Homo sapiens: one gene and its partner. Changing the gene in region 2 together with the main gene of any one other region gives a genetic interaction. Each region holds a gene or a part of one and is shown on either strand. Other genes may lie near its edges.

Region 1 (10,850 bases), on a different chromosome or scaffold from region 2:
TCCCATAGATGCCTCTCAGCCTCCCGGAATCCAAGCCAATTATTTGTTTCCTGGTTTTAAAGTGCCCATCTGTTAATTTCTTATAATTCGTAAAAAAGTAGAAGTAGATTTTGGATAAAATAAGTTGTAGGTGGGAACTTGGGGGGACAGGTGGCAGAAAATGCAGAAGACCTGTGAAAAGATCATGGCATCAGGCAGAGGAAATAGGATTGCAGGCTCTGTCCATTTGGGGTCTGTTGTCTGCCCATGCAAGGGCCAAGGAGGGAGCTCCCTTCCCCCAACTCCCCCCTCTTCCCTGCCCCTCCCTCACTGTGATGTGGCACCCAAGGAGCCCTCTGGCGGGACAAGCTGTGTCTGTCTGACCAAAGGCAGACACTGCAGCAGCCTGGAATTCATTCTGGAAGAAAACCTTGAACATTCCTCTGTTTGAGTCAGACTCTGATGGTTTTTTTTTTTGTTTTTTTAAATTATTATTATTATACTTTAATTTTAGGGTACATGGGCACAATGTGCGGGTTAGTTACATATGTATACATGTGCCATGCTGGTGCGCTGCACCCACTAACTCGTCATCTAGCATTAGGTATATCTCCCAATGCTATCCCTCCCCCCTCCCCCCACCCCATGGTTTTAAAAAATAGGCTTATACCAATAGGCAACTCAAACTCCATCAATCCTGAGGCGCCTAGAACAGTACACGCAAAGACAAGTCAGGGGAAGCAGGCTCAGAGCTGCCACTCTGACTGCAAGCAGTAATGATCATAATCATACTTCATCCGTGCAAGCCTGTACTGCTCATAAAACACTGCTCTCCCTCATGAGCGCATCATAGGCTTAATTGATGCTGTGAGCATTGTTACTTCCATTTTATATTTCAAGAAACCGTGGCCCAGGTTGCACTCCTATTCAAGGGACAGAGCTGGAACTTGAACTAAAATCTTTTGATCATTGGATTCTTCGTGATCTAGTTAGTGAAATATGCCTTGTTGTCACGGTGGGAGGAGGAGAGGAAGCATAGAGGATTGAGTTCCCTGCAAGTTAAAGAAGGCTTCAGCTTGCTAGTTGTCAGCTTGAGATGAAAGACTGGTTGCTCTGAGATGTGGCTGCCGGCAAGTCAGGTGTAGACCCGCTGGGCAGGAGTGAGGCCACCTTTGCTGTTGTGCCTCTACACACACAAAGAATCTATCCAAATTTCAAGTATGTGTAGACAGTTCTACTGCAGGATAAATAGGGCATCTCTTGGCACTCCTGAAAGGTTAATAAGCCCAAGGCAGATAGAATGATCTGGTATGAGTTGAGCCTTAAAGTTGGTTCTAAGTGATTTGTTTTTAGAAATTATGAAATGATTTCAAGATCATTATCGTGGCCTGGGTCTTCCAGTTATTGCCCTGACTTGAGCCTCTCTTTGAACTCTATAGGGTGAGACAGAAAAGGCCACACCTGCCAGACACTAGCTTTTCTCTTTGTTCTTTTCCTCTGAATTAATTCCCCTTTTCTCTGCCTGTTGGCTATCTTATTGTAGCTGGTAGACAAATCTAGTGCTGTCTTTTCTCTTTCTTCTTGTTTTCTTTTTTCGATAGAGCTAAAATTTGGAATCTGTCTTCCTGTATTTATATATGTAGTTTCCAATGATAATGAGTTGTGCCTGTGATGTCCCAAAACATCAAATATGCCCCCCAAATAAATACTAGTCTGGTAAATGGCGAGAGAAATAGAAACAAACACAGGTGATGTGGCATAAGCATGCATATTTTTGCCCATTGGGGTATTTTAAACAACGATCTTTGTTTCTCTGCCCTCCCTTGCCTTGCACATCTCTCTCCCCAACTTGGTTCTTCCCCACTCAGGCCCACACCCCTCTTTTGTTCATTTCTTCCCTGCTTTTTGTTTCAAACGCACATTCCCATCGTGACTGGGTCTTTCTCTGGAGTTGGTATGTGGTTGGTGGGCTACTCTCCACCCAGTTTGTGTTCATGAAATTGTCTGGTTCACTGTCCACTGATTACTCAAGGGTCTTTGTTGCTGAGAAGACAGAACACTACCAAGGAGCCTGGTTGTTAAGGAGTTTCCTTAGAAATGCTAAGCCCAGGCCAGGCGTGGTGGCTCACACCTGTAATCCCAGCACTTTGGGAGGCTGAGGTAGGTGGATCACTTGAGGCCAGGAGTTGGATACCAGCCTGGTCAACATAGTGAAACCCCGTCTCTACTAAAAATGCAAAAATTAGCCAGGCATGGTGGTGGGCACCTGTAATCCCAGCTACTCAGGAGGCTGAGGCATGAGAATCGCTTGAACCTGGTAGGCAGAGGTTGCAGTGAGCCAAGATCGCACCACTGCACTCCAGCCTGGGCGACAGAGCAACACTGTCTCAAAAAAAATAAAATAAAATAAAAAAAGAAGTGCTAAGCCGAATGTTTAGGAAGGAGAACCCAGGCCTCCATTCTCAGCACCGTATTCCCTTCAGGCACTTTACTTCCAAGAAAAATCTTCTGTGAGGCACACAATCACTAAAGAAAAGTAAGAGGCAAACTAGCTTTGAAAGCAAATCCCATCCCTCAGCCCTCAGCAGGTTGCACAACCTCTAACACACGTGGCCTCTCTGTTGGTGCAGGTGACAAGACCACCTTCCAGCTACAGGTTCGCCAGGTGGAGGACTATCCTGTGGACCTGTACTACCTGATGGACCTCTCCCTGTCCATGAAGGATGACTTGGACAATATCCGGAGCCTGGGCACCAAACTCGCGGAGGAGATGAGGAAGCTCACCAGCAACTTCCGGTTGGGATTTGGGTCTTTTGTTGATAAGGACATCTCTCCTTTCTCCTACACGGCACCGAGGTACCAGACCAATCCGTGCATTGGGTAAGTGACCAGTTGCCCTTCTGTTGGGTACTTAAGGGTGGGAGAATGGAGAAGCAGGAAAATTTAGCTCAAAGAAAGAATTAAGGAAGGCATGGTTAGGAGGGGTGGCCAGGCTTAGGCGTTTAATTTGATTAATGATAAGCATACATTCTCTCCTTTCCTGACGTGTGAAGAAGTGAGTGAACTGTCACAAGGTTGTAAAGATAAAATGATCACAACCCCTTGATTTTCCTGCCTGCCATGCACAGCACCATTTGCTCACATTAATAGAATTCAGAAAATGTCCTCAGGGAGTGATGGATCCAGATTATCAGGGAGGCAGCAGGCAGGGCAACTTAAACTTTCCCCTTGCTTGTAGTAACTGAGGTGCTTTGGGAGAAATGAATTCAAAATTTGTCCCTGTTGTTTTTCTATAAATAACTATAACTTATTTTCACATAATTAGATTAAAATCCTATTTTAAATGTAAGAATTTTTTTTTCAACATAAACACCTGAACTAGAAAAGATTTGACATATTATTAGAAAACAGGTGTCTCTAACTGCTGCCAGATTCTATAATAACAAAGTGTATAATGGCTCAAACTTGCTGGAAGTTTATTTCCTGCTCCTCAAGTCCAACTGGGTCTCTTCATCCATGGAACTTCTCCTGCAAGCAGTGACTCAGGGACTCAGGTGCTTTCCATCTTCCAGGCTTTACCATCTTCCACACATGGCTCCTAAGGTCATGCTGCCTAGAGGGTCATGCATAGGAGGATAGGCCTTTGCCATGCCCGCTCCCACATGCTATTAGACGGAACAGGACTGAGCCAGGAGGCTGGGAACTAGTGTAGCTGTAGGCCCAGGAATCAGAAGAAATAGGATTAGTGAGCAGGTCTCTGCCATGGGACGTTTGTATGCATGCTGGGGTGGGTGGTTGTATGAGGGGATTGCATTCTTCAGCCCATGCAACACAACCTCTACTAGGTTGGTTTCTTTTCTTTTTAGTCTTTCAGGAGTTTCTTTAAATGTCAAGATTATGCAAGTGACTGCAGTGAGTGGTAACTTCCAACTCTTGCTTTCCTCATCTCCACATTTAACTTTAGTGAGGGTTTGTGTTGTAAGGTCCAAAACTAGTCATGAGATAGGAAATAACTAAGACTTAAGTTTTTACTAAGTGTCAAGCCCCATACTAAATATTTTCTGTGGATTATCTCATTTAAATCTCATAACAATCTGTTGAGGTCTCTAAGGTAAGTGTAAGCCAGATTTTAGAGATGCAGAAACTGAGGCCTAGAGAGAATAACTTACCCAATATTATACAAACAGCAAGGGGTAGAGCTGGAATATGAATACAGACAAACTACTTTTAGAGTCTGCATTTGCATTTTTTTTTGAGACGGAGTCTTGCTCTGTTGCCCAGGCTGGAGTGCAGTGGTGCAATCTCGGCTCCCTGCAACCTCCGCCTCCCGGGTTCAAGCCGATTCTCCTGCCCCAGTCTCCTGAGTAGCTGAGATTATAGGTGCCTGCCACCACACCTGGCTGATTTTTGTATTTTTAGTAGAGATGGGGTTTCACCATGTTGGCCAGGCTGGTCTTGAACTCCTGACGTCAAGCGACCCATCCACCTCAGCCTCCCAAAGTGCTGGGATTACAGGCATGAGCCACTGCATCCGGCCTGCGTTTGCGTTTAATATAATGTCTTCTTCCCCATTCAAATCACACTACAACACAGACACTTTACCTTAGGCTGAGTAATAATACCTGTCCCTAAACCACCCTACCCCCATGTCCTAGGGGCTTACCTGAGGATCATGGTAGGTTATGCTGCAGTAACGTAGAGTCTCCAAATCTCAGTGGCTCAACACAATGAACGTTTTTTTTTTGTTGGTTTTTTTTTTTTTTGCTTGTGCAACATCTGATGAGGGCTGAGCTGCTTTCCTTGGCAGCTCTCCATGCAGTAACTCAGGGATCCAGCTCCTTCCATCTTGTGATGCCATTCTCAATTCTTGGTCTTCCAGCTGCCACCAAGGGGAGAGAGCTGTTCTTAAATCCCTGAGCCCTCCCCTCTCCACAAGTCCTCTTTGGTAGCCTTCAGAGCTCCTAGCTCCAAGTTGGGCTGGGTGATAGGAGCAAGTTAGTGTGCTGGTGGCATAGGCTCTTCTGAATCCCTCCAGATCCTTCTGTATACTCTCCCAGAAGCTGACTTAGATCTTTTCAGGTATTGGGAACTGACACTGGTGGAAAAACAGACAAGAAAAAGTTTTAAATACAAATGAACTCTAAATTCTTTAACCACGAAGAGGCACTAGGCATCATCATTTGCTGGGTTTAGCTTCCTCCTGGCGACAGGTGGCCACAGGGACTATTACTACTTTGATTCTGTCTCCAAGGCCCTTTTCAGCTAAGTCTGGGTGTCAAATGTTTTTGTTGAAATTTTGCTGCTTACCAGGAGCAACAGCATCTTAACTGCAAGCCTTAAGCCTTTTTTCAATTCATCTGAAATAGTGATTTTATTTGCTTCTTTTCACCTCTGTCCTAATTGGGCCCTGTCTCCAGACAGATAGGGTGTGTCCCCACTTTCATTCTTCCAAGGCCCTTCCACTGACCGAGACACTAGATTGGAAGCTGGCAGAGAATCAAGGGCTGGCTCTAGGCGCTCAGCATTTAAATATTCAAAGTTATGACACATCATTACTTATTCAGAGCTCACTCTCTAAGTCCTCTAAGGCAGAGCCTGTTGCAGACAGTAAAACTCCTGACAGTGAGTACAAGGCACACTGAAAAGCTACTTGTAAGGCAGGAAGTCCAGTGAAGAATGAGAATGTGGAAGGAAACCTCGGGCCTGAGTTATGTGAAGCTCTCTTCTCTGAGCTGGGGAGGCACACGCAGCGTGGGGGCACACTGTGGCTTGGTGAGCAGGCCGAGCTTTGTCTCCCCACGTCCAGGCAGCACGGCATCCTGTGTCTCCTGGGTTCAAGTGATTCTCCTGCCTCAGCCTCCTGAGTAGCTGGTATTACAGGCACGTGCCACCACACCCAGCTAATTTTTGTATTTTTTAGTAGAGATGGGGTTTCACCATGTTGGCCAGGCTGGTCTTGAGCTCCTGACCTCAGGTGATCCACCCACCTCAGCTTCCCAAAGTGCTGAGATTACAGGGGTGGGCCACCACGCCCAGCCTAAAGTATTTTAAATTATTCTGTTTCTGTTTCTTGAATTGTGGATCCTTCAGGTGGATCCACAGCCAGTCAGTGTATTGGACCTGCTGACATGCCTTCATGAATTGTTTTTCATGCAATTTATAAGCTTTTCATTAGCTCTTCCTTGGAGGTTGTGGGGGCATCCCTGCAGAGCAGTTTTATGTTTGCCGTTGTCGAGAATCTCCAGGTTCACCGTGGGACTAGTTTTTCTGTTAATTTTTCAAATGGAGATGTCTTCACCATAAAAGCAGTGTATTCCAATTGCTCAGGCCTGGAGTTACAGTTTTTATGGGTAATTCATCTCATTCATGGTAGATGGTCAGCTTCCGTGCTGCTTTCCTAGACCAGTAGCTGGAGTTTTTCTGTTTCTGGTTTTAGTAGCACAGCAGCTCATTGTGCTGTTCGGCTTTATGCAGACAGCCCTATTCCAGTGTTCAGCCCTCTGCAGGACTGAGGCTCAGCATCTATTCCTGGTAGACCCTGCTCCAAGCCTGTAGGGCCTCAGTCAAGGCCTGACCCATTGCGGGGGTCCTTGGCATGAGTGCCTGCCCATTTCCTACCTTTTTTTTTTGAGACCGAGTCTTGCTCTGTTACTCAGGCTGGAGTGCAGTGGCGGGATCTCAGCTCACTGCAACCTCCACCTCCTGGGTTCAAGTGATTATCCTGACTCAGCCTCCTGAGTAGCTGGGATTACAGGTGCCCACCACCATGCCCAGCTAATTTTTGTATTTTTAGTAGAGATGGCGTTTCACCACGTTGGCCAGGCTGGTCTTGAACTCCTGACCTCAGGTGATCTGCCTGCCTCAGCCTCCTAAAGTGCTGAGATTACAGGCGTGAGCCACTGCACCCAGCCCCCACCTATTCTTTTAAGTCCATTCATTTGTTTTTTGGTGTTTTCTTTTTTTTTTTTTTTTTTTTTTTTTTTGCCAAAACCAAATACTTCTGAAAGGTCCATTCATTTATTGAATGGTTTCCTCTTCGTTTCTGGGATTTACTTTCTAAGCTTCCAGCCTAGGCTATATATTAAAAAATTTTAAATTACATTTTATCCAGCAGTTGTATATGTTTAGAGTTAGAAGAAGCAGATAAGATGTTTTCATTCCTGTTCCATGACATGGAGAGCCTTTCCATGTCAGCTTGATCCATGATATTCTCCTGAGGCATTAGATTGTTTTCTGGATTTGCCTAGGTCTGGTGTCTTCAAATTGGATTCACTTTTTATACATACAGACACTCCCTTGGCTCTTTAACCATATATATTTTATTTTTTATCTCCCTTGTTAATAATCCTTAATTTAGTAACTCTGTATGCATGGCGCTTATTTGGGGTCTCACAGCACAGACACATGAGAGGGGTAGGATAGTCTCCTGGCATGACCCCAGAACGTCCGGATCTTCAGGCCACTCAGACAGCTGCTCTGGGGTTAAGTCAGATAACTCATCACAGGTGACATCCTATTCCAGTGTCAGTGGAGACTCTCCTAGCGTCTGTGTGACAAAGCTCTTTTCCTAAGTGACTCTGACTTGGTTATAGTAAATTCTCTACAATGAAGGCTTCTCTCTGGCAAACACATCTTCTAATTCCTAACTACTTAACAGTCATTCTTTGCAGTAAAAATGTATCTGCTCATTGCTGTTTGCGGGAGTGAAAGGGAGGAGGTAAAACATGCTGAGCTGTAGCTGAGTTTGTCACAGCTTTCCTGGTTAAACAGCAATCATTATTCAGTTTCTTTTCTCCCTGTCCGCAACCAACCGGACCAAGTGTAAAAAAACCACACACCTGAAGTCCTAAATCATGGGCCAGAGCCACATAGGCCAGGGCAGGATCTTGGAGGAAGAGAGAGGGGGAGAGTTTGGATAGACTTACTTCCTTCTGGGCCTATGATCCACTTGCCAAATAGCTACAGATGGGACCTCAGTTCCTTCTTCCAGCTGGGAATGTAATTTCCATGATTGTTCTTTTCATGACAAAATGAGGAGGTAATGGAAAGTTTGGGTGGCCCGAGGCTGAGGTTAAAAGAGAGTTCCACCTGTCCAAGTACAAGGTGTTCATGAAGACTTCGGGAAAGGAGAAGGGAGAAACACAAAGGAAAGCCAGGCAGGGAGATCCCATCGCTGCCGCCGGCCCCGAGAGGGAGAGCGCGACTATCACAGGAGTGGGGCTGATTGATTCTGTGCAGGGTGGGCCTGTTGCTGGGGACTCTGTGCTGTGCTGTTGTGACTGTGTGGATGGAGAAGGGACTGTAGCCCTGAGAGGGAATGGAATAGCCCCTTAGAGAACCAAAGATTGCCCCTTTACAGAAGGGAGCCTGCCCAGACCTGCCCTGGTGAGTCTGCTTTTTGACAGCATTTAAGGCAGGGTCCTCCTAGCTGTTGCTAAGGCTGTTTTCTTTCCCATGTATGCAGCTTGAATTAGATTATAAAGCCTTTCCCTCAGGCCTGTTAGTGCTCGTTTTCCATCATTTATCCTGAAAGAGCGACTTCCTTAACATGGCTGGAGACCCTGCACAGTCTGGCCCAGCCTGCCTCCCAGGCTCCTCCTCGCCCATCCTCACCCGTTACTCTGCACCACAGCCCCCCGACCTCCCTCTGTCCTTGGGCTCTGTGCTCCCTTCTGCCACAGGACTCTTGCACATGCTCTTCTCTGGCTGGGACACTCTCCCCTCTTCCCTTTACTTTGTGAACCCATTGGTAAAACAATATAAGCTCTCTCTTCCAACTTTATTAGTTCTAGATCAAGCTGAAACTCTTAGAGCTGTAATGGAAAGTAACTCCCTTCAGGAATAGGGCCACTTGGAGTCTCCACAGGAGACTGAAAAGGAGATCACCCCATATTTCAGGAGAAAGGCTTGGTATTAACCTATTATTGATGTGTAATACTTCCTTCTTTTGTAATTTCCAGACATAACTTTCCATTTGAAGATGCTTAGTTTCTAAATAATTTTTATTGCATTTAGCAGAATTGATAGTTTGTTGGTACAATATTTAGAAACGAATGAAGAAGCAGATAAGATGTTTTCATTCCTGTTCCATTCAGCATTTGTCCATGTGCCTGCACATCCTGGTCACTGAGTGGATTGACATGACAAGATTATGTGATCCTGTGATCCTTTGTTGCGTGGCAGCAACATTGATGTAGAAGCTGGTTGCATGGAGTAACTGCACTTACATTGCCCTCACTGGGCATCATCCATGTTCCTTAGCCCAGAGGACACTTCCTCTCCACTCTGCCTAGGCTGGCCCACACCCCGGGTCCCACATACCTTTCAATGCCTATGTCAAGTCTTCCTCCAACCACAGTAGCCTACTATTATCTCTGTTTCCTTTGAACAATTTGTCCATACCATTCATTTATAACTTGGCATATACTGCCTTGCCTGCAGTTTAGGGCTGATGTTTGGAGAACAGGAACTATGTTATTTATCTTTGCTCTCTCTGCTGTGCCTGTCCTGGGGCATGTGGTAGGTGCTGGGTAAATAGTTATTGGTGCCTCTCAAGGCACTCAGTGAATGCTCAGAACACTTGGTTAAGATTTACAGACAATGATGGAAAAGTGACTCTTCTCTTCTTCCTCTCTAGTTACAAGTTGTTTCCAAATTGCGTCCCCTCCTTTGGGTTCCGCCATCTGCTGCCTCTCACAGACAGAGTGGACAGCTTCAATGAGGAAGTTCGGAAACAGAGGGTGTCCCGGAACCGAGATGCCCCTGAGGGGGGCTTTGATGCAGTACTCCAGGCAGCCGTCTGCAAGGTAACTTTCCTTTCTGGTCCTGTCCCTGCATGGGGAGGTCAAGGTAGAGAGCGTCAGTGGGTGTTGGTACTTCCTGCAGGAGTCTTTGAGTGCCCCAGCATGTGGCTCCTGACCACTCTGAAGTCAGAGGGTGAGCTCAGTGGAACTTCTGGGAAATCTACAGCAGTCAAATCAGCCGGAGCTCGGGAATGGATTGGGCTGGTCTGTGTCTCTGTGTCAGGGTGTGGTTGTGTGCAATGGAGTACTGTCTGCTAGAAGACAGCTGTCTGCATTTATACATTGGCTTTTTGGTTTATTTTCAGGGGAAAAAAGTAAAGGTCAAGTCATAGGCATAGAAGCTTGTAGAGCTTTCTGGACCAATTTTGGCAAACCTTAGAGATTGCTCTCTTGGGAAACCCAGTTGAAAAAGAATTGTGTGAGGCCGGGCGTGGTGGCTCACGCCTGTAATCCCAGCACTTTGGGAGGCCGAGGCAGGTGGATCACGAGGTCAGGAGTTCAAGGCCAGCCTGGCCAACATAGTGAAACCCTGTCTCTACTGAAAATACAAAAAAATTAGCCGGGCATGGTGACGGGTGCCTGTAATCCCAGCTACTCGGGAGGCTGAGGCAGGAGAATCGCTTGAACCAGGAGGCGGAGGTTGCAGTGAGTGGAGATTGTGCCACTGCACTCCAGCCTGGGCGACAGTGTGAGACTCTGTCTCAAATTTAAAAAAAAAAAAAAGAAAGAAAAAGAATTGTGTGGCATCTTTGGTTGCAATTCTAGTTGTTTTCCTCCTGCTTCTCTGTGATATATGAATCCAGAGGGAGGGCCTAGACTTAGATCAGAAATGAACTCATGCTTCGAGAGGTTCCAATCTTAGCAAAATATATAAATGGAATGTTGGTGATAACATAGTCTTAAAATAATTTTCTACTGTTGAAACAACCCAATAACAATAACAAAAAAAAAACACTCTTAAATTCACTATCATAACACATACTTTAAAAATCTGTGAGTCTCTTCTTAGTCTTTGTGCATACATTTCATATTTTTTCAAAGTGGTCATCAATAGAGTGTGAATAATTG
Region 2 (11,569 bases):
GACACTGATCCTTCCACTTTATTGTTCACCTCTCGAAATGCAGCCTCTACATGCTCTAATAATTGTACTTCCCATATGCAGTTGACTGTGGTGATTTGAGCCTTTTAAACACACAACCTGACTTTGCCTCCCCAACCTCCCCCCAACAAATTACATAAGCTGGATACTAGTATTTCCAGTCTGTTGTTCAGCACATGGAATGAAATGTCCTAGGTTCTCCATCATTACACCCCAACAATTTCAAAAACTGGGCTCTTGGCCTCCTAGTATGTGGCTGAGCATGTTAAAGGAAGTATCATGACAGAACTCTCAATTCCATAACAGACACAAGTGCCAGACAAGGCAACTTCCACTGTACTTCTCAGCACAGTGAAAAAATACACTATCTCATTTTTTTTTTTTTTTTTGAGATAGAGTCTCGCTCTGTGGTCCAGGATGGAGTGCAGTGGTGTGATCTCAGCCCACTGCAACCTCACCTCCCAGGTTCAAGTGATTCTCCTGCCTCAGCCTCCCGAGTAGCTAGGACTACAGGCATGCACCACCATGCCCAGCTAATTTTTTTTATTTTTTTTAATAGATACAGGGTTTCACCATGTTAGCCAGGCTGGTCTCTAACTCCTGACCTCAGGTGATCTGCCCTCCTTGGCCTCCCAAAGTTCTGGGATTACAGGCATTAGCCACCATGCCTAGCCCACTAGCTCATTTTTCTTTTTTTTTTTTGAGATGGAGTCTCGCTCTGTCACCCCAGCCGGAGTGCAGTGGTGCCATCTTGGTTCACTGAAACCTTCGCTTCCCAGGTTCAAGCAATTCTCCTGTCTCAGCCTCTTGAATAGCTGGGACTACAGGCATGTGCCACCACGCCTGGCTAATTTTTTTGGTATTTTTAGTGGAGATGGGGTTTCGCCACGTTAGCCAGGATGGTCTCCATCTCCTGATCTCATGGTCTGCCCGCCTTGGCCTCCCAAACTGCTGGGATTACAGGCGTGAGCCACCGCACCTGGCCCTAGCTCATTTTTCTAACAAACTGTAACACTTAGATATGCTTCTCATGCCTCTTCCAGGATGCTAAATAGGTTGTCACTTACCCACCAACTATAAAAGCTCAACAATTGGCCTTCTGTACCTTGTTCAACACAATGAGGAGCATCTTTAAATGGTGCTGCCCCATTTCCAATGGGATGAGAGTGAGATTTTACTTTTAATGAGTTTTTCAGCCTATTGGATGGATTATCTTGAAAGACACTCCAAGAAACCACTAAAGGAAATACTTTATTCCAGTATCGTGTTCACTGTGCTGAATGGAGTGTTTTACTTGTACTATTTCACTTTACAACAACTATAAAAGCTATTGTACTGTGAGGGTTAATTCCAGCAGGCCTGAAATTAGCTTGAACTGTTTTGAAGTTCCTGCGTGGCAATGACCCCTGGCCAAGAGCATGAAGCATATTGATTAATAATGTTGCTTTTTAACCATCAGTCTGAGGAGCTTCAGGGAAACTTGTACTACCATCAACTTTGCTTTTCGAAAACAATGAGATAAATGATTTGCACCTGGTCTCAGCGAGACCCCTCCAACCCCTGCCACAGGGCTCTGCTGTTGAGGCTGGTTATGCCTTAAGACTATGCCGATGACCAGCAAAATATAAAAATCCCCAGCTGAGACTCCATTTTCGATCCCATTTCTGAGGTGTTCCATGCACACATCAATGGTTTTTGATCCAACAGAGAAAGTGCATCCTGCCACGTTCCTTACAGAAATTAGGACAAAGGAGCTGGCACCTGGCCTATCTGGCCATGAATAGCCTTTGACTGAGATGCTTATTCTTACTTTACTGCTATTTGCTATATTGTGTCCTCTTACTGTAACAAACTCGAGATGTTGGATCTGGTCAGTAATTTTTTAGCAGTGAAACCGTTTAACTTCCACTTAACGATTATACAACTGGCCGGGCGCAGTGGCTCACACCTGTAATCCCAGCACTTTGGGATGCTGAGGCAGGTGGATCATGAGGTCAAGAGATGGAGGCCATCCTGGCCAACATGGTGAAACCACGTCTCTACTAAAAATACAAAAATTAGCTGGGTGTGGTGGCACACACCTATAGTCCCAGCTACTCGGGAGGTTGAGGCAGGAGAATTGCTTGAATCTGGGAGGCGGAGGTTGCAGTGAGCCAAGATCACGCCACTGCACAACAGCCTGGTGACAGAGCAAGATTCGGTCTCAAAAAAAAAAAAAAAGGCAATTATATGACTGCACTTGTGTATGTGTGTTTGATTCAATATTTCAAATGGTTTACATTACCTAAAATATATGCCCCCAAAGGCCTTAAACCTATACTCCCATTATGTTGTTCAGCACATTGAACAGGGTCTCTTCCATGCACTGTCTGTGTTATGCAAGAAACTACAAGATGCTTGTACGTCCCTCAAGATTTTTGGCATTATGAGTTGACTTTTCTTACGGGCACCATTCCAGTTATCCAGCAAATTTTAAGAACTTGGCACTTACATTTCTAATATATTGCTCAGAATACTGAATGAAGGACAAGAGGTCAAGGGGTTTAGAAGCTGTGGTGTTGAAGTACCATTTATAAGGTACCGAAACTACCAAAAGTCATGGCAGGGATAGTGTAAAGGGAGTGACTGTGATGCAGGCGCTGCATCTTCAGAGAATTAGGAGAGACTCAGGGGTCCCTACGTGGCTGCAGCAAGCAGGGCTGGTCTAGTCTAATGACATCAGAGTCAAAGCCAGAGACTAGAGAGTAGGGACACATAATGGTCTTAAGACAGCAAAGAGAATATCACATCCAGACCCAGGGACAGGGAGGTGAGTGTAGGAAGCATGGTTCACCAAAGGAAAACCAGGGTGCTATTACTAGAGTATTGTGGTATGGATGCTAGCTGCTGGGTGAGTGAGTGCCAAAGTGGTCTGAAGATTGCTTTTTTTTTTTTTTGAGACGGAGTCTTTCTCTCTGTTGCCCAGGCTGGAGTGCAGTGGCACCATCTTAGCTCACTGCAACCTCTGCCTCCCAGGTTCAAACAATTCTCCTGCCTCAGCTGGGATTACAGGCATGCGCCACCACAGCCAGCTAATTTTTGTATTTTTAGTAGAGACAGTGTTTCACCATGTTGACCAGGCTGGTCTCGAACTCCCGACCTCAAGTAATCTGCCCACCTTGGCCCCCCAAAGTGTTGGGATTACAGGTGTGAGCCACTGTACCCAGCTGATGGGATAGAAGATTTCTGAGGGAGGTGAACTGGGGGGTCTACATGGTAGACTAGAGGCAGGAGGGGGAAATAAATTACAGGTATAGCTGTAGACAGAGCTGAAAGGGGTAGGGGACAGGGGTAAGAGGACAAAGAGAAGCAAGGTATGGGTTTAGACATAGGGTCATTGAGGACTACGTCTTCACACATTTCATTTGTGTGTGGCCTGGCGCGCTCCTATGGGACCTTCAATTGGAAGCCTCAAGTCCTGTCACTGATACGTTGAACATGTTTGACAGATAGATTGTGACCACAATGCCACTTTACCTTGGTTACAGCTCTTTCACACTTGAATCAGTGGGGGTAATCTTCCCTAGCCCTTAGATGAACACTGCAGCAGGCCTTTAACATTCTCTCTTTTTCTTAGGTATTAAACAGTAGGGGCTCCTACTTGTAGCACAGAGTCTTAGCTGACACAGGAGACACAGTGGGCATTGGAGAATGGGTTCCAGGTAAGTGTCTTCTTGTTGAAGTTGCACAACAGCCTTGGAACTAGTTATGTAATATGGGGTCCGGGTTGTTTTTTGTTTGTTTGTTTGTCGCTCATATTTTCCTACATGTAGTCTGATCACTTGAATAATTAGGACATTAAATTGCAATATCATTTGGATGCACAAGTACAAAATTAACATTGTAGAGCTGACATCTCACAGTTTAGCTAAATTTTGGCATTTGCAGATTTTTAAAAGCATAACTGCAACTTCTTTGACACTTCTATCTTCAAGAGGTTGGGCTTGAACCTCTATGGCTCCTCCCCATGAGGGTGGGGTTGTGACTGCTTCCATCAAGAGAGTAGGGTGGAGTTATGTGACCTCCGAGGCTAGGACATAAAAGGCCACGAAGCTTCCTCCTTGTTTACTGGAATGCTTGCTCTTGGAGCCCTGAGCTGCCATGCAAGACTTCCAGCTACTCCAAGGCCACCATGGAGAAGCCTAGTTTAGGTGCTCCAGTTAGTCTGCAGCCCTAGTGCCCAAGTCATCCCAGTGCAGATGGCAGCTATGTGAGTGAATGAGCCTTGAGATCGGGGTTAGCCAACTTTTTATCTAAAGGGCCAGATTGCATGGCTTTGTGGGCCACATAATCTCTGTCACAATTACCAACATGAATGACTGTGTTTCGATAACGATTATTTGCAAAAAGAAGCCATAGGCCTGCAGGTTATAATTTACTTTACATGATTCTAATCCCCAACCATTTGAGCCTAAGGTCCCAGGCAGATATGGAGGAGCAAGGACAACCTATTTCCCCTGTGCTCTGTCCAAACCTCCGATCCACAGAATTCAGGAATCTAATAAAATGGCTGACATTTTACTCCCACTATGTTTGGGGTGGTATATCAAACACCGGTAGATAGCTGAAGAGTATTGTACAAGGCAGGCCTCAACAAGAAAGTGAGATTTGAGCTGACTTGGAGGAGAGCCAACTGGGAAGCTGTGTGTCTAGGGGAAGAGCATTTCAGGCAGAGAGAACAGCCAGTGCAAACCTTTGGGCGGAGGAGTGCTTGGTATATGTGAGCAATAGCAAGGAAATTGCAGGAGAACAGCTCTGCCGAGGTGTCCTTGGCAATCTTGCACATCTCTCGAGGCCATGTAGGCAAGGTATGACCACGGTCTGACCCAAGTCTTGTTGGACTGCCCTGTGATTTCCCCTAAAGCAGGGATGGGTAAGCCTGGTGAGGAGCCACTGGTAGGCAGTTTCCTATCCCTACCCCATGGGAGACTGCTGCAAGGCCATTTCTCTTCCTTCTCCAACGTTTCAGTTGACTGCAGGACTTTCCATATCCCTCCCTCCACCGCCCAGCCCGCTTCCCTCCAAGCATACAGCGGCAGGCTCCTGTGAAGTCTATAAAACTGCTTGGTGTAATTTAGACTTGGCTACTCAGCGGCAGGGCTCATGTTGTCTTATTTATTTATTTATTTATTTATTTATTTTTGTTAAATTATGTAGACCCATAGGATAACACTGACCCTTCCAGTTTGGTGTTATCTTGTAGGCCTAAGGATGCATGGAGCTGACACCACACTGATTTTGCTTTTGCTGTCGGTGTAAGTAATAACCTGTCTAAACCCATCTGGGCTGCCTGTCTCCTTCCCGTAGCCAAATCTACGGGAAGTGTCCAGCCAGTGTAGGGGTCAAGGGACCGCTTGACGAGACCAACGTAAATTGAAGAGGCGTAAGGAGATGAGGCCAAAGAGGAAAGGGGACCAGGTCACGTAGAACCTCGTAGACCACTGCAGAACCTTGGCTTACGTACGCAGAGACAGCAGGAACCACTGATAGGTTTAGGGAGATTTGAGGAGAGGGACATGATTTGGCTTATGTTATGTTGTTAAAGGGACCACATTAAAATACATTCATTCTAAAAGTGTTACCTTTAAGAAACTACGTATATAAATTAAGTTACTGTTGCCATTATTAGCGTAAGTAGTTACATTTCTCTTACGACTCACTCTCTGCTACTGCCTCTTGGACCCTGCACACCTTGTGGAGGCCCATGAGAGTGACGTGCTGTGGTTCCCCCTCTCCCCACTCCTGCTCTGCACTTTGTCATTCACGTTCATCTCCCTCCTTGAGTGTCACCTCTCTCTGGCTCGTCACGGAGCCACGGCAAAGCGTCCTTTCCCAGGAACCCCTCCCCCTGGGGAGGTGAGCTCCTCGCCGCCAGGGCCGTGTCGCGCACCTCGGGCCGGGTACCCAGGCGGCGCTCGGCGGCGAGCGGAATGGATGTGGAGGAGCGCTCGGCAGGGAGCGCTGCCGCCCTGGCCTTGGCCTCTGGGAGCGGCGCGGCCAGGGTTTTCTGTGTCAGCCAAGCCCGGAATGCGGGGGCGCCTCTGGACCCTCCTCTTGGGTCTGGGGGCTGCCTCGGGCATCCTCTACTCCTCTCCCACCTTCTGTCCTTCCCCATCTCCCACCCACACGTGTGGGGCCCCGGACCCGCGCAGCGGCCAGAGCCTTCCGCTGTGGACCTCCAGTCCACCCCTCCCCTTCACTTCTCTTTCCGGCTCCCTCCGGGTCTCTCAGCCCCCTCCCCTTCCTCTCCGCCCCCTTCCCCGCCGTCTGCCCAGCGGCGGCCTTCGGCCCGCCCCTTCTCTCCAACCCCCTCCCTTTCCCCTTTACGCCCCTCCTCCCCCTCGTCCTCCCGCCCCCTCCCACCCCAACCTGCTGGGCCCGCCGGGACTCGCCCCCCTGCCCGCTCCTCTCCTCCAGCCCCGGCCGGCCTCGGCTCGGCCCCCGGCCCGCCCCTTCCAGCCCTCGGCACCTCCCGCCGGCCGCTTGGCTCCGCCACTCGGCACTCACTGCCCGGGCCGCCCGGACAGGGAGCTTCGCTGGCGCGCTTGGCCGGCGACAGGACAGGTTCGGGACGTCCATCTGTCCATCCGTCCGGAGAGAAATTACAGATCCGCAGCCCCGGGATGGGGCCGGCCCCGCTGCCGCTGCTGCTGGGCCTCTTCCTCCCCGCGCTCTGGCGTAGAGGTGAGTGCGCCCGGCTGGGGGCCAGGCGAGGGGGTGGGGGCTCCCAGGAGGAAGCAGGGGCCTCTGGGGAGGGAGCGCGTCCACAGGGGCGCGCCTGGCTGCTGGACAAGTTTGCAAACACCCTCCACCCACTGCGGTGCCAGAGGAGGGGGCGTAGGCGAACCTACCGTCCACTGACCGCGGCGCCTCAAGCGTCCCGAGGGCACCCAGCCTGGCTTGCGGGTGCGCATCGTGGTGAAGCCGGGTCGGGGTCGGCGTTGCAGGCTCCCCTCTTCACCGCAGAGGAGGAAATCGAGCTCGGCCGGGCGCGCTGCAAGTCCTGAAGTTCCGACGAGTGGAACGTAGGTAGCAGGTCTGGTCTGGGATGCGACGAGAACTTTCCACTAGAGTTGCATGGTGGGGCCCCGCTCTGGCCGGAGTCCCGGGGGCCACAGATCCGGTCTCCCGAGGGACCGGCGCGGGGCGAACGAACGGGCTGCGGGAGTCGGAGCCGCAGTCCGGGAGCCGCGATAGACTGAGGCCGAGCGACGGGCCAGGGGGGGACGGCAGTCCTGGCTGCTCCCAATGGGCCCTTACGGGCATTATTAGTATCCCTTTTTAGGGGCACCCAGAGAGTGTGGGAAAAGGGGAGCGTTCTTTTCACTCCTGTTATGGCAGAACAGAACTTACAGTGCTCGGCAGCGTTTACGTTTATCTGGATTCAGCGAAGTGTTGTTACAGGCTTTTTTTTTTTTAATTTGAGACCGAGTCTCGCCCTGTCGCCCAGGCTGGAGTGCCGCGGCGCGATCTCGGCTCACTGCAGGCTCCGCCTCCCGGGTTCAAGCGATTCTCCTGCCTCAGCCTCCCGAGTAGCTGAGACTATAGACGCGCGCTACCACGTCCGGCTAATTTTTGTATTTTTAGTAGAGACGGGGTTTCACCATGTTGGCCAGGATGGTCTCGATCTCTTGACCTCGTGATCTGCTCTCCTTGGCCTCCCAAAGTTCTGGGATTACAGTCGTGAGCCACCGCGCCCGGCTTGTTCCAGGCATTTTAATACAAGATGCTGGACTGATACGTGGAGGCAAGGAAGGCCGGTTTCATTCTGCTTGAACAGCTTATTTGGGGAGTGAGTGATGAACAGATTTCAAGTTTGATCGCTGATGCACTTCTTGAGGAGGCTGGAATAAACTTACCAGGCTTTACCCAAAAGAAAAAGAAAGGGGAAAAATGCTAAATAAACACATTCCAAGTATTTTCTCTCAGCTAAAAGGTTTCTATTTCCATTCAGCATGTAGATTTTCTCTCTTTTGATCGAGAATGCACTTGACTAGCCTTCACCTATTACAGTCAAAGATGTTTTTTAGGAATACCTGGAAAGCTCAGTTTATAGTCAAGTAAGTTACTTAAAAGTTTTTCCTTTGAGATTTTCCTTTGAAAGCTCATTTACTCAAATGAAAAATTCTTAAACAGTGCACCCACTTTTTGCACGTTAAATTACATAAGCAATTTATAATTTGGGGCAACATAGCAATTTGAAACAAACTTTAAGAGCCAGGCAAAGAACTAAAGCAGTTCTGTTCTCCACTGCCCCTCCCTCCACCAAACCTTCAAAAATTCCTCAGCATTTCTGCCAGCCCCATTTTTCATAATCTGCTGCAAATCTGTTATTTGTTGCTACTAGTGAGGACTGGCCGTGAATAGTCTTGGAGGTAGTGAATGTGGTGAGAACTATGGAGAAAGTAATGGGAACAATAGTTTTGTGTTAAATACTTAAAAATTGGAGTGCTTTTGTTTTTCTAAAATTTTAAAAGGCTGTAATAACAAATTTTTGTAGCTGACAATCAACTTTAATCAGACAATCATAAAAAGGCCTTTTAAAATCCACCCAGCTGGAAGAATGAAAAGTTTCACCAATCGTTCTTGCACTTTTTGCTTTTGGTTTTGAACTTTACCTATGAGATGTGTGACAGTTTTACATCTCACCTTGTGAAAAGCTTAAAGAATGGGATTCTCACTGGCAGAATTACAGCACAAAGGAGTGCTGTATGAAGAAATTAAACATGGAAATTAGACTCTTCATCTAATTTTAAGATTTTCCTATTACACATTGTGGGTCTGAGTGCTTTGCTGACCACACAGGGGAGACAGAGAGAGAGACAATGAGAATATGTGTGTAGATTCTACACTGTTAGCAGTATAGAAGAATGGGTAAATAAAATTTAAGCATCACTTTAACCCAGGAAATCCCCTCTGCCCCCCAACACACATACACACTACACGTCTCACAAAGACATGCACACACAGAACTGGAACTGCCAAACCAGGAGCATTTCGAGGCTTTCCAGTCTTTCCTTTCTGCTCAGTCTCTGATGGGGGTGCCATTGAGCAGCAAAATGAGGCAAGCGGTGGCTCTCTGAAGGGCCAGGGAGAGGATGGAGCAAGATAAATATAAATGTGGATAAAAATGAATGCATTATGAGGACTTAGCTCATGACGAGGCTGTGTGTGCAGCTAAACTCAACCCTTAGAGTAAATTAGGCTTTTAAGATTCTTTAATGTTAATATTTCTTTTCCAAACTGATATTGTAACATGTATTCCAGTATATTGTAAACATCTTCCCAGAGGGAACTTTTAAGTTGTTCTGTTGCTTGTGGGCTTTATTCCAAAGGCTTCAAATGCTTTTTGAAAGTACATCGTGCATATTTTAAAAATGAATACTTTTAGAAAATTATTCTGACCCATTAAAGTGCTGAGTGGAATTCTTTTCTTTTCTTTCTTTCTTTTTTTTTTTTTTTTGGCAGGTTCTCATTCTGCCACCCAGGCTAGAGTGCAGTGGCACCATCACGGCTCACTGCAACCTCAACCTTCCGGGCTCAAGTGATCCTCCCACCTCAGCCTCCCAAGTAGCTATGACCACAGGCACATACCACCATGCCTGGCTAATTTTTTATTTTTTGTAGAGACAGGATCTCACTATGTTGCCCAGGCTGGTCTTGAACTCCTGGGCTCAAGCGATCTTCCCACCTTAGCCTCTCAGAGTGTGGGGATTATAGGCATGAGCCACCATGCACAGCTGAATACAATTTTTAAAAAATTAACAATAATTATGTTTTTTTGTTTTTGAGATAGAGTTTCACTCTTGCTGTCCAGGCTAGAGTGCAATGGCACAATCTCGGCTCACCGCAACTTCCCGCCTCCCGGGTTCAAGCAGTTCTCCTGCCTCAGCCTCCTGAGTAGCTGGGATTACAGGCATGCACCACCACGCCTGGCTAATTTTGTATTTTTGGTAGAGACAGGGTTTCTCCGTGTTGGTTAGGTTGGTCTCGAACTCCCAACCTCAGGTGATCTGCCTGCCTTGGCCTCCCAAAGTGCTGGGATTACAGGCATGAGCCACCACACCCAGCCAATAATTATATTTTTAAATCTTAATTTTTGAAATAATTTCCAGATAATTGTAGAAGGGCCAGTGAGTTACTAGTCAGCATTGGTCAAGAAGAGGTTCAATCTTTTTATGCCTGTGAATTGGGAACATGCTGCTGGGTAGAAAAACTGAGCTGGGACCTTGAACACACATGTGAAACAGTCGCTTTCCATATAATAGCCAGAATGAGATTTTGGAAACGAATCTGATTGTATTTTCCATTTGAAAATCTTCCAGTGGCTTCCTGTTCCCTACTAGAATTTGCAGAGACTCACAGCGAACCTCTTTGACCCATTTCCATTCACTTCCCTCTTGTTCCTACCACTCCAGCCACCTGTGTCTTCTTTCTAGGGCCTGAGCAGCCTTTGCAGTGACTCTTCCCTCTGGCTGGAACCTTTTTCCCAAGATCTCGGCATGCTGGCTTCTTCTCATCCTTTGGGTTTCAGTTCAGAGGTTCTCCTTGAGAAGCCTTCCCCAATAACCACCCCCTGCCAAAGTATCATATGCATACACCCCACTATCCCTTAAATTTAATTTCCTGATAATGCTTCTCACAACCTGATCAGTTCCTTCCTTCCTTCCTTCCTTCCTCCCTCCCTCCCTCCCTCTATTTCTTTATTGACAGAGTCTTGCAATGGCAAATTCTCTGCTCACTGCAACCTCCGCCTCCCAGGTTCAAGCAATTCTCCTGCCTCAGCCTTCCCAGTAGCTGGGATTACAGGCACCTGCCACCACAGCTGGCTAATTTTTGTATTTTTAGTAGAGACAGGGTTTCACCATGTTGGCCAGGCTGGTCTCGAACTCCTGACCTCAGGTGATCCGCCTACCTCAGCCTCCCAAAGTGCAGAGATTACAGGCGTGAGCTATGGCACCCAGCCTTACCTCTTTGTTTACTCCTTTTCCTCCACTGTCCCCCCACCACAAGGTAAGCTCCTGGTGGCAGGGCTGCTGTCTTTTTCACTGCTAACACAGCATGGAGCTCATACGGGTGCTCAGTGAGTATCAGAGCACAGCATGAAGGAACCAAGCCCCTGCATGTCTTACCAGGTGCTCTTCACCCTTATCTTTTCCTACTGGCTTTTCCAGAAACAGAATTGCTGGAGCTCCCATGCCCTCACATTCGGGGCTTGGTTAATAGAAAACAATCTTTTATTTTGCTGTGATGCCAATGTGATTTCATTGCTGGAGGAGCTAGTCAATTAAAACCAGACAGATTTTTGGGCTGTATTAACCCCAAACATATTTTACATTGTCCTAACTATTCCAACTAGAAAAAAAAATGTCAGAAGGTAATTTTTCATGTTAAACACAGTTCTAACAACTCCTTGCTCAGGGGCAGGTAGCCCTGGGTGCCTTGACTTTGGCCCTTGCCGTTAGTTTAATCTTAACCCAAAGCACATGGCTCTGAATTGGTATGTTTCTCA

Evidence for each region.
Region 1: of MERTK (region 2) and ITGB5, changing one enhances a phenotype caused by changing the other (phenotypic enhancement), as found in Homo sapiens cells (one study listed by BioGRID).

The regions. Positions count from the first base shown.
Region 1 is NC_000003.12:124,840,318-124,851,167, reverse strand, and holds part of ITGB5 (integrin beta-5 isoform a precursor), read left to right. Parts: intron 1-2,609; coding exon 2,610-2,859; intron 2,860-9,616; coding exon 9,617-9,785; intron 9,786-10,850.
Region 2 is NC_000002.12:111,892,056-111,903,624, forward strand, and holds the start of MERTK (tyrosine-protein kinase Mer precursor), read left to right. Parts: upstream 1-6,551; 5' UTR 6,552-6,680; coding exon 6,681-6,741; intron 6,742-11,569. UniProt on the Homo sapiens protein: Receptor tyrosine kinase that transduces signals from the extracellular matrix into the cytoplasm by binding to several ligands including LGALS3, TUB, TULP1 or GAS6.